2 separate regions of the Homo sapiens genome follow, and region 2 is linked to region 1. The links come from fine-mapping of genetic effects on gene expression. A gene starts in region 1. The other region holds a variant in brackets. All regions are shown on one strand. Distances are between the middles of the regions.

Region 1 (5,376 bases):
GAGGACCAGTGCAGCGCTCTACATGTAAGTTCCCCTAATAAGTGCTTTGGAACTTGGTGATTTCTTCTTTGGAATCTCAACTGACCCCATTTGGGGATGGTTTGGGCAGTCCCTTGCAGGAATTCCCCTGCCACCATTCTGAGGGTGACTCCAGCTGCAGGTTCCACCAGGCAGAACACCGGGAAGCTGTGTCCCCAGTAGAACAACCTGGAAAAAGGCCTGTCAACCACTGAGCTGACTGCCTAATGGCAAACCAAGGTAGATCCCAGCTGTCCTGGGGAGTCAGATGACCCTGGCAGGCCTTTTCCTGTGCTGCCTGGGTGATTATAGCAATTTCAAGATAACCTTTAAAACATCATATCAAAAGGTCATCTGAAGGGCTTTGTCCCAGATGTCCATTGGCCATTTCCCATTCTGCATAGGGCCACCTGCTTCCTGCTCCTTCATGTGGCAGTTAACAAGGATAAATGAGACAAGGAGGAAAATGCTTGGGGCTATCTTTGCAGAATCCCAAGCAGGAATTTGCTCTGCCTTAAGTGGGAGACTTCATCCTGAAAACTCAATCACAGATGCTCAGAGATGATGGAAAATGCTGCTGTCCCGAGGCCCCGTGTATTCTGGACACCCCAGCTGTTGGAACCAAGATAGGCTTCCAATGGGGGTGCCGCTGCGGACTCCCTGAGCCACTGAGGTTGGGCAGGGCAGGCACAGTGCCACAAGAATGAGTCATTGGCCGGGGCACATGGGAGCTCACATCCTCCTGTACTCAGCTCTTTGGGGAAACAGCTTGCTGCTGATTTTCTGCACTGTTTCCTTCTTTATTTTTAAACATACTTGCATACATTCTTGTAGGCGAAGGCTTTGTGCCGTACTAGAAACGGGAAAATGTTTTCTAGGAGACTTCAGCCCAGATAGGAAAACTTTTTGCGTCTGGCAGATAGGAAAGGGTGGTTTACTTTTGATTTGATATTGGGACGCATTCCTGTGCGCTGGAATCATCCGCAGAAGTCATCCCTTGCTCAACCCAGGGTAACATCTGGATTCTGACTCAGTGTCCAACAAACCAGCTTTGTGGTCCAAATACAAACAAACTTAACTTTCTTTGCCTCAGTTTACTCTGCTATAAATCCCAGATAATATCCTCTGCTCCTCCAGCCCTGGGAGCCAATTGTAGGGATTCATGGAAAGAATACATGATACAAACATAAGTATAAATAAAATAAACATACGTATTCATAATCTCTCCTCAAATTGAAATTTAATGCAATATCCCATTAACCCCATTTTAAAGATGAAGAAAGAGAGGTAGAGATTATCTAAGACAAATAGCTAAAGGCCCAGTGGGCAATTTGCAGGGCAAGCATTGAGCTGACCAGCATGCAGCCTCTACTGTTTAGATTTCTTTTAAGGGTAAGTAAAATCCCCATCCTTGAAACCCTGGCTTCCAGTGTTGTGTGCCTATCAAGTCAAAAGGATTTTCAGGGACAATGGAGATGAAATTCTTTAATCAGGTTTTCGAGATCCGTTCTATTAATTATGCACTCATTAAGCACACATTAATTGAGGAACTACTATAGCCAAACCCCTGTGCTAGGAGCTGGACATAAAGCAGTGAAGAAGATAAACGCAGAGCCAGCCCTCCCATAGTTGATATTCTAGCATTTCCTCTTTGAAGCTAGGGTTTTTGCAGAACTGTCTGTAGAGGACAGACAGGGAGGAATGCTGTGGCTGGCCTAGGTAAGCTGAGCATCCTAGCTACTCTCTGCAGGACGCAGGGAAAGGCACTGACTTGAGCAAATCCTATTAAGCCTCATCAAGCCTGATACTTCTCTTCTTCCATCCTCTCCTGTGTCTGTGAATGGGAAGCTGTGTTGAGACATGATGAAAGCTTTTGGAAAAGACAGAGCTTCAAGTCCAGCAAAGTGGTTTAATCCCTTTGATAGGAAAACACAAGTGGAGAAAGACTCAAAAGAGGCAAAATCAAAGGAAGTTGTATTTCAGATGATGCGTTAGTGAATGTGACATCCATTTAGATGGACCTCTGAATGAAGAATGTCAAACATCACGCACCCACAGGGAGGAAAACTTGGTGTCATGGCGTGGTCTAGAATGTCAGGAGTCAGGGCCCTAACAACTTGGTAAGAGCCTTGCTTGGGGGTCAGCAGGGCTTCCTGGAGAGACCACTGGCTTGGGAGTCTTTTCACAGACTCAGTCTCCCTATCTGTGATCACAAGCATCTTTATCAATTTCCTACTTTCTAAGATATGCTGGATCAAAATGTACCACTCTCTGAGCTTTGAAACACGGGATGAAGTTGGAGGAAGAGGAATGGAGGAGGGCGTGCTTATGTCTCATATGGAGATATTTGTATACTCTTCTGTGGGAATATATATGACTGTACTCATAGGAAAATGCTCCAAACTGGTTGGTGAACAGGCTGCCCCAGTCCCCTCAAGGCCCTTTAGGGTTAGCAGGAAGCATTCGAGGTGTTACACTTGAATGTAACACCAGAATACATGCTGGGGACAGAGAAGGCACTTGTAAGTAGGCAGAATTCCAACACACCCTCGTGATTCCTGCCCCCTGGTATACACCCCCTGAGGAACCCCAGGAAATCCTCACTCCCATGACTGGGGCATGTCATATGGCAGAGCTGAACTGAAGAAAGAAAGTTCATCTGGGGTGAGCTTGACCCAATCACAAGCCCTTTGAAGGGATTGGGCTTTTCCCGAAGTAAGAGATTCAAATTATTAGAGGAATTAGACAGAGGGGGCTTCTCCTTTGCTGGTTTTAAAGATGGAGGGGGCCACACGGCAAGGAATGTGGGTGACCTCTGGGAGCTGAGAGCAGCCCCCAGATGATAGCCAGCAAAAAAGTGAGGACCTCAGTCCTACAACCACAAAGACCTGAATTCTGCCAGAACCACAGGAGCTTGAAGGGGGCCCTGAGTTCCACATGAGAATGCTGGCCTCGCTGACACCCTGGTTTTGGCCTTGTGGGAACAGAGCAGAGGACACAGTCGCATCAAGCCTGGACTTCTGACCTACAGAACTGTGAGCTGATAAGTGGGTGCTGTTTCCAGCCACTATGTCTGTGGTCATCTGTTATGGCAGAAATAGAAAATCCAGTACAGAAAGGGAAGTCGGATCATAAACAGTTAGGAAGGCTGACTCTGGCATCAGATGACCTAGGTTCCTATTTTGCCTGGAGCTGAGGCACATTTGGAAAAGTTACTTCTCTAAGCTTCCGTTGCTTTATTTGCAAAATGGGGATAACAGTACTCACCAAAAAGAGCTGCTGCGAAGATGAAATGAAAGGTGTGTGTACAGTGCCTGGTTTACAGGAGCCCTCCTGAGAGGTAGCTCTTAGGATTTTCCACCAGGGGGCAGGGCTGGGAAAGGGGCTGGAGGGGTGGGGGTGAGGGGCAGGAGTGCTTCAAACGCCTTGAGGATAAGGAAGGAGAATCAGCAAGTCCCGAGTTCCTACGGTGTGTCAGCATCGTGCTCCCACTCCCGGGAGAGAGGCATTATCTTCAGTTTACAAAAGGGGAAAACAGGTGAGAGTTTAAAAACCTCGCCCGGAATCGCACGGCTAGTGCTGCAGGCTCCCCGGATTCCGCAGCAGCTGCTCTAGATGAGGGCATGCCTAGAGGCTCTGCTCCGCTGCAGCGTCTACGAGACCGGGAACCCGTGCCCCTTTCCTCCCCCCGCCCCGCCCCCCCAGAAGCCACGCCTGAGGAATTTTCTAAGACCTTTCCCTTTCGTCCCTCCCACGCCTAAGGTCCAGGTCCCAGGGCTTTCCCTTGCACCTTCATCCCTGGCCCTGCAGAGGCCTGCTTCTCGCTTCCGGGGTCGCCAGAGCGCCCCTCCCGCCACCCCGCCATCTCTTGGCCGGATCGTGCGAGAGAAGGGGAGGAGGTTGGGACGGGGGAGGGTGGCTGCGACAGGGGAGGGGAGCCTGGGAGAGGTGGGGAGGGAGGCTGGGACGGGGGAGCCCCAGCGCGGCAGGAACCGGGAGCCCTGAGCGCCACAACGTCTAGCGTGGCCTCGGAGGGTGACACAGGGGAGACCCCTCACCCCGCAGGGGACGAAGCCCCCAGTGCGGCTGGATAAGGCGGTGCTCGACGCCTGGGTGTGGCCCCCTGGCCAGCTGCAGCTCTGCGGCTGCGGAGGAGGCGGGGCTGGGGGATGCGGGGTGGGAGGGTGAGAGCCAGGAGGGGCCTGCGGAGGGGAGACAGAGGCCCTGTCCCCAGGGAACGGGCGTGGGGAGGCCGTTGGCAGTGCCGGGGACTCCCCGCCAGCGGGTCTCTCTTCCTGGAGGAAGGGCGGGCCAGCGGCCCCAGCCACCCAGAGACTGTGCCCAAGCCACACCGGTGGACAGGATCCTCCCAGGGGCCAGTCCTGGTTTCCCAGCTTTTCACAATTACCAACCTTAAAACAAAACAAAATTATCCTCTAGTGTACTCGGAGGTTTAATGGCACAGAGCCCGGTGGTAATAAATCTTTAAAAACCCGTCAGGTATTTCATTTAAAAACCGCACCATTTTGCAGCTATTTGTTCTATCAACTTAGGTCTGTGTCTATTTTTGAATTTCTGAACGTTTTACGGGTTTGCTTTTTGAGCCTGTTTGTTTCATAGCACATGATGGAGTAGGTGTGAAATCCCAGTGGAAGCTGACACAGGGCTTCACTCACTCAGTCAATTAGTCAGCGAACCCCCACTCAACACCCACTGGGTGTTTGAATTATGTTGAGCTCTGGGGATAGAAGGAGGTCGACTCACACTTCACTGGCATTCGTTCCTGTGCTTTCCCTTCCTGGGGATCTGGCTAAAATGCGGGTTCTGATTCTGTAGGTCTGGGGTTTCCAGAGTCCGCGGTTTTGCTAAGAAGCCGCAGTGATGTTGACGCGGCTGGTCCTCAGTGCACACCTGAGTAGCACGACCTCTCCGCCCTGGACGCACGCTGCCATCAGCTGGGAGCTGGACAACGTGCTGATGCCTAGTCCCAGAATCTGGCCCCAGGTGACTCCAACAGGTAATGAGATTGACGACCCTTGATGCGTTCTCTGTCCGCAAGGAGTTCCTGGTCTGGTGGGGAGTACACAGGCAAAAAAAATCAGTGCAGTAGAGAGTGAGAGAGAGGCCAGGGTGCAGTCCTGAATTTGGCTTGTCTGGGGTGGGCGAGGAAGAGTCAGGAAGGCCCTGGTGAGGAAGGCGTCCAGTGAGCAGGGTGAGGTGGCAGAGCCTTGTGGGCCTGAGAACAGGGGAGCAAACAGTAATAATAGCTCCAGCATGGAATCCCTGTTCTGTGCCATCTTTGTGCTGAGTGTTTTTCATGCATTGTATCATTTAATCCTGAAACAGATCTATTAAGTC
Region 2 (5,376 bases), 21 kb after region 1:
CTACGCAGAGAAGGAAGGTCTGAAGGACTTAGGGAAGGAAGACTAAGGTTTGAATGTGATGAGAGGGAGAGGAGTCAAGGAGCCGGGCTGGAAATCAAGGCTTGGGCAGGCAAGGCTCAGGGTGCTCAGGGACCACAAGAAAGGGAAGGGTTGCTGCTGGGGGATCTGGGCGGTAAAGTGGTGATGCCAGTGGCTGTAATTAACGCAGTGCCTACTATGTGCTGAGCTCTGCTCGATGCTTCACGTAAGTAATTGCTTGTAATTTTCTCGACAGCCTCGGGAGGGAGGTAGCTTTAGCACCTTTCTCCGGAGAGAAAACAGGCTCAGACAAGTCAAGTCCCCTCACACTGGCAGGAATTTCAGACCTGCTAGCAGAACCCAGTTTTGTTAGTTTCCAAGATCATATTTCTAATTGTTATGAGATGAACGGTGTCTCTCCCAAATTCAGATGTTGAAGCCCTGATTCCCAGTGCTTCCGAATGTGACTGTATTTGGACATGGGGCCTTTAAAGGGGTGATTAAATTAAACTAAGGGGCCGGGTGTGGTGGCTCATGCCCATAATCTCATACTTTGGGAGGCCGAGGTGGGTGGATCACCTGAGGTCAGGAGTTTCAGATCAGACTGGCCAACGTGGGGAAACTCTGTCTCTACTAAAAATACAAAATTAGCTGGGCATGTCTGTAGACCCAGCTACTCGGGAGTCTGAGGAAGGAGAATCCCTTGAACCTGGGAGGCGGAGGTTGCAGTGAGCCAAGATCGTGCCACTGCACTCCAGCCTGTGCAACAGAGTGAGTCCATCTCAAAAAAAAAAAAAAAAGAATTAATTAAACTAAGACCATTAGGGTGAGTCCTAATCCAATCTGACTGGTATCCTCATAAGAAGAGGAACTACTTTGAGGACACTAGGAGAAGGCAGCTGTCTCCCAGCCGAGCAGAGGCCTCAGGAGAAACCAACTTTGTTGACAACCTTGATCTTGGACTCCTAACTTCCAGGGCTGTGGGAAATCAATTTCTACTTGAGCCACCCCGTCAGTGATGTTTTGTTATGGCAGCCCTAACAAACGAAGACATTAACCACGCATCTCTGCCTCTCAGAAGAGCCTCATATCCCAGGCTGTGGCATCTGGATTTTCTTCTGCAGATTGAAAGCAAGTATTAAGAATTTCTGAGTTGGGGAGAATTATGAAAATCATTGTGAAGATTTCCCTGGGGGTTGTCTGTGTATGATTCATTCATTTATTCATTTCAGTGAAGACTTATGGAGCACGTGCTTTGTGACCTCTGCAATGACAGGGACCCTGTTTGTCTTGTTCACCTCTGGGTGCCCCTTAGCAGTGCTAAGCACAGCATCTGCTACATAGGAGATGATCAATAAATATTTGTCAAATGAAAGAAAGGATATGGGGTAGGTTCTGCACTTAGAGAAAAATGACAAGACAAATACAGAACTTGCCTTCAAGGAGCTGAGAGTGTGGTGAGGCTGGTAGTCAGTTTGTGGTTAGTTTAGGTGGAGCTGAGATTATTGTGCAGTGCCACCCAACAGAACTTTTGCAATGAAGAAAATGCCTGATATCTTGTCTGTATAATGTGGCATTGTGGCTACTGCCTAGGTGTAATGTGGCTACTGTGAATAGGAAAGGGAATTTTAAATTTTAATTAATTTGCATTTAAGTAGGCACTATGGCTGGCAGCTACTGTATTGCACAGTCTAGGATTGGAGGCAGGGAGAGCGTTCGTGGGCTGGGCCCTAGTGCTGGCCTGAGGTGATAAGGCTGCAACAAGGCAAAGGAAGAAAGAGCCTTGGGACGGGTAGTGGGTTGCACAGTCTGGCGGCAACAGTGCCACCCCCTGGGATCATGTATGAAATGCGGAATCTCAGGCTCCACCCTCCACCTGCTCAAAGAGAATTTGCCTTTTAACAAGCTCTCCAGGTGACTATGCACACTGGGGCTTGGAAGAGCATGATGTAGAAGATGTGGCTGAGAAAGGGTCAACAGGAGCCCAAAGGAGAAGAGGAATGAAACTGGATGGCTTGGAGCTGAGCTGGGCTAAGCTCCCCTGAATCTCCAGAGGCACTGAGATCCCCTCCTCTGTGGACACCTTGACCCCTCCGCTTCCCTCTGATAGAGCGCCGATCACATGTGTTGGGGGTTCTGTGACCTGTCTCTCTCCTCTACCTGCAATCTACAAGTTCCTTAAGGGTGTAAACCTTGTTTTTTAAAACCCAAGTAAATGTTTATTGAATGCGTGCATGCCTGATGTCAGGAATGAGAAAATTAGCAGGAGTAGGTGACTGGGACGGGAGAGCTGCTGAGTTTGATTCTAGACATGCTGCATGCATGTCTAACTGAAGGTTGGTGAGAACTCCACTAATTGCAACTCCACTAATTGCAACTCCACAAAAAGTGGCAACTCCACTAATTGCCTAAGTGGAGTTGTCTGAGAAGAGGCAGGAATGGATGTCTGGTGATGACGGGGGAGTTGAGGATGGGGTGGAGATTTTGGAATGTCATCCGCAGAGAGGAGAAGACTGAAACTCTGAGAAATAATTTAGGTATCTGGAGGAGGGTGGAGAGAGAAGGAGAAGAGGCAAGAGCTGGGAACTATGCTCAGATCTGGGACAGAGGGAGAAGGATACAGAACAGGAGATAGAGGAGTGATCAGGATGGCTGGAGGTCAGCAAGGCTGGGGTGGCAGAATGACCTGGAAAGGAAGAGTGGCAAGAAAATTGAGTGGCCAGTGTGCCGGCGTCCCTCGTTAATAGAATATTTCTTTCATAGTATTTATCCCATGAAACCTGTGTGCAACACAGCAGAGGTCCAAAGTAGGTAAGTACAGATCCAGAAAAGTCATGGAAAATAGGGCCAATGGGAAAAAAAACCCCTAATCATTGACCAGGCCATCAAGCTGTCATTAGTGACTTTGCAGGATGTGTTAAAGAGGCCTCCTATTCATCTCACAACTCAAAACAGACATGCTCTCTGGGAAAGTGGCCTGATATTCATGTTGATGCCTTGACTTCTCCCAGTGCATAAGCTTCCCACTTGTC[A/T]TTGGATGATCCCAAATTCACTGTTCCTTTAATGCCATTGAATTCTGACCATAGGGAGCACCAATGGTAGCTTCAGCTTCCCTGAAACAAGCTTCCCGTTCCTGAATTTCCTCTCACTCTTGAGTCCAGGCCCAGGTGCCTGAGAGAGGCATTTGCCACAGCTGGCCATACAGTTGACTTTATCGAGTCAACATCTGTTTCTAGAGGGCACAGCACTTAGCCCCAGGACTCAGCTTGGTGCCCAGCGCTGAGCTTCCAGTTATTGCACCGCTAGGGGCAAATGATGTTTTTCTTCCTATCCAGTGAAGTGGGCTCCTATTTGGCAAGGAAAGAAAATGAACAACTTTAATTCCTTCCTAACTTTTTTCATAACAACTCTCTTAATTCTGTTTTGTGGAAAACTCCATAGACATGCTGACCAGCAAGCACCTGCCCTGCCCCGGTGTGGTTTCCACAAGGGGGGCAACAGCACCATCTAGTGTTTGAAAGAGATTTCACACTAGGTAGAACACATGTATTTACTTACCTTGATCTTTAGTTTTTGTTTTATTAAGGTAATATATTGGCCGGGCACGGTGGCTCACTCCTGTAATCCCAGCACTTTGGGAGGTCGAGGCGGGCGGATCACGAGGTCAAGAGATCGAGACCATCCTGGCCAACCAACCCCGTCTCTACTAAAAATACACAAAATAGCTGGGCGTAGTGGCACATGCCTGTAGTCCCAGCTACTCGGGAGGCTGAGGCAGGAGAATCGCTTGAACCCGGGAGGTGGAGGTTGCAGTGAGCCGAGATCGTGCCACTGCACTCCAGCCTGGGTGACAGAGCGAGACTCCGTGTCAAAAAAAAAAAAGTGATATATGAAAGTAATATATTTGAAGCATCACATTTTTCTAAATAATTTGAAACAAAAGCAGTTGGGTTTCCTCTTTGACCATCTTCCAATCTGCAGAGGTCATCACTTTCATTTCTTTTGGCTATTTTTTCCCTTTGGTTTTTGTCTGTAAATGACACCCTTCTAGTAATACTTATAGATGCTTCCATCTTCAGAGACGACCTATGAACTTTCTACCACTGAAGATGGAAACGTGGCTCCCTTTCCTCCCCTGAACCCACCACGTGCTCACATACTTCCCATTTCTCGTCCAGCAAGGGAGCTGTGTCACAATTTTGGTTGGATGAATACTCAGTTTTAATATTTTTATGTCTATAAAGTTCTGTTTGTATGTAGCTGATCCATGCAGCAAACCAGATTGCTTTGTCTTTCCTGCACAACTCTTTTTCTTCTCTGGAGGGACTAATTAATTGTCTTGGTTTGGTTTGTGTAGTTGTGTTTGCTCTCATCGCCAATTTCTTTTTTCTTTTTTGGGGGGATGGAGTCTCGCTCTGTCACCCAGGCTGGAGTGCGATGGTGCGATCTTGGCTCACTGCAACCTCTGCCTCTTGGATTCAAGCAATTCTCCTGTCTCAGCTTCCTGAATAGCTGAGATTACAGGTGTGCGTTACGCGCCACCATGCCTGGTTAATTTTTGTATTTTGGATAGAGACAGGGTTTCCTCATGTTGGCCAGGCTGGTCTCAAACTCCTGACCTCAAGTGATTTGCCTTCTTCAGCTTCCCAAAGTGCTGAGATTACAGGCATGAGCCACCATGCCTGGCCTCATCACCAATTTCAATGCAAAAATTTCCACCTACCATTTCAATCTCCTCTCAAGATGTCCAGATGCACCAGAAGTCCTACTGATTCCATCTGGAGAAATCTCCCTGGTGCCTTCTGCTCCCTTTGGTCTGGCCTGGTTGCCCTCTCTGCCTAGCGCACAGCTGGCTTCCTGGCATCTCTGTTTGCTTTGCCTCACTCCCATATTGCATCCCCTGTTTCCTGAATCCCATGCGTGTTTCTTTCTTGGTTCACTCTCTTACTTTTTAGGAAGAACACGTCCTACCATTGCTTCCTAGGAAAGAGAGTGGGCAAGGTACAATTTTGAGATTCTGCATATCTGAGAATATCTCTATTCTATTCAATTGACAACTTGGGCAGGTGTAGAATTCTAAATGGGAAATTATTTTTCTTCGGTATGTTAGAGGGATTTCTTCTTCTTCCACATTTCAATTATATTGTTAGAAGCCCGAAGCAAGTTTCATTCCTGATCCTTTTGCGGGTCCTCTTTTTCCTTTCTGGAAACTAGCCAGATCTTCTCTTAGTGAGTAGTGGTGTGAAATTTCACAACGATGTGCCTTGGTGTGGGACTGTTTTCATCCACTGTACGGAACACTGGGTAGCCCTTTTAATCATCGCCTTTCCTTCTGGGTGAGTTTCTTGCGATGCCTCT

What was found.
Region 2: its variant is fine-mapped to the expression of KCNJ5-AS1 in nasal epithelium (TOPMed, PIP 0.96).

The regions. Positions count from the first base shown.
Region 1 is chr11:128,904,090-128,909,465 of GRCh38, reverse strand. It overlaps KCNJ5-AS1 (KCNJ5 antisense RNA 1), which reads left to right and starts at 3,235. Exons shown (of 4, transcript NR_045767.1): 1 at 3,235-3,317; 2 at 4,855-5,035. All of the region lies in intron 1 of KCNJ5 (potassium inwardly rectifying channel subfamily J member 5), which reads right to left. RefSeq lists a silencer at 4,301-4,370.
Region 2 is chr11:128,883,044-128,888,419 of GRCh38, reverse strand. No RefSeq gene overlaps it. Among named protein-coding and RNA genes, the nearest start is that of KCNJ5, 5.6 kb to the left of the region's middle. The variant A/T (reference allele first, on the strand shown) is at 3,051.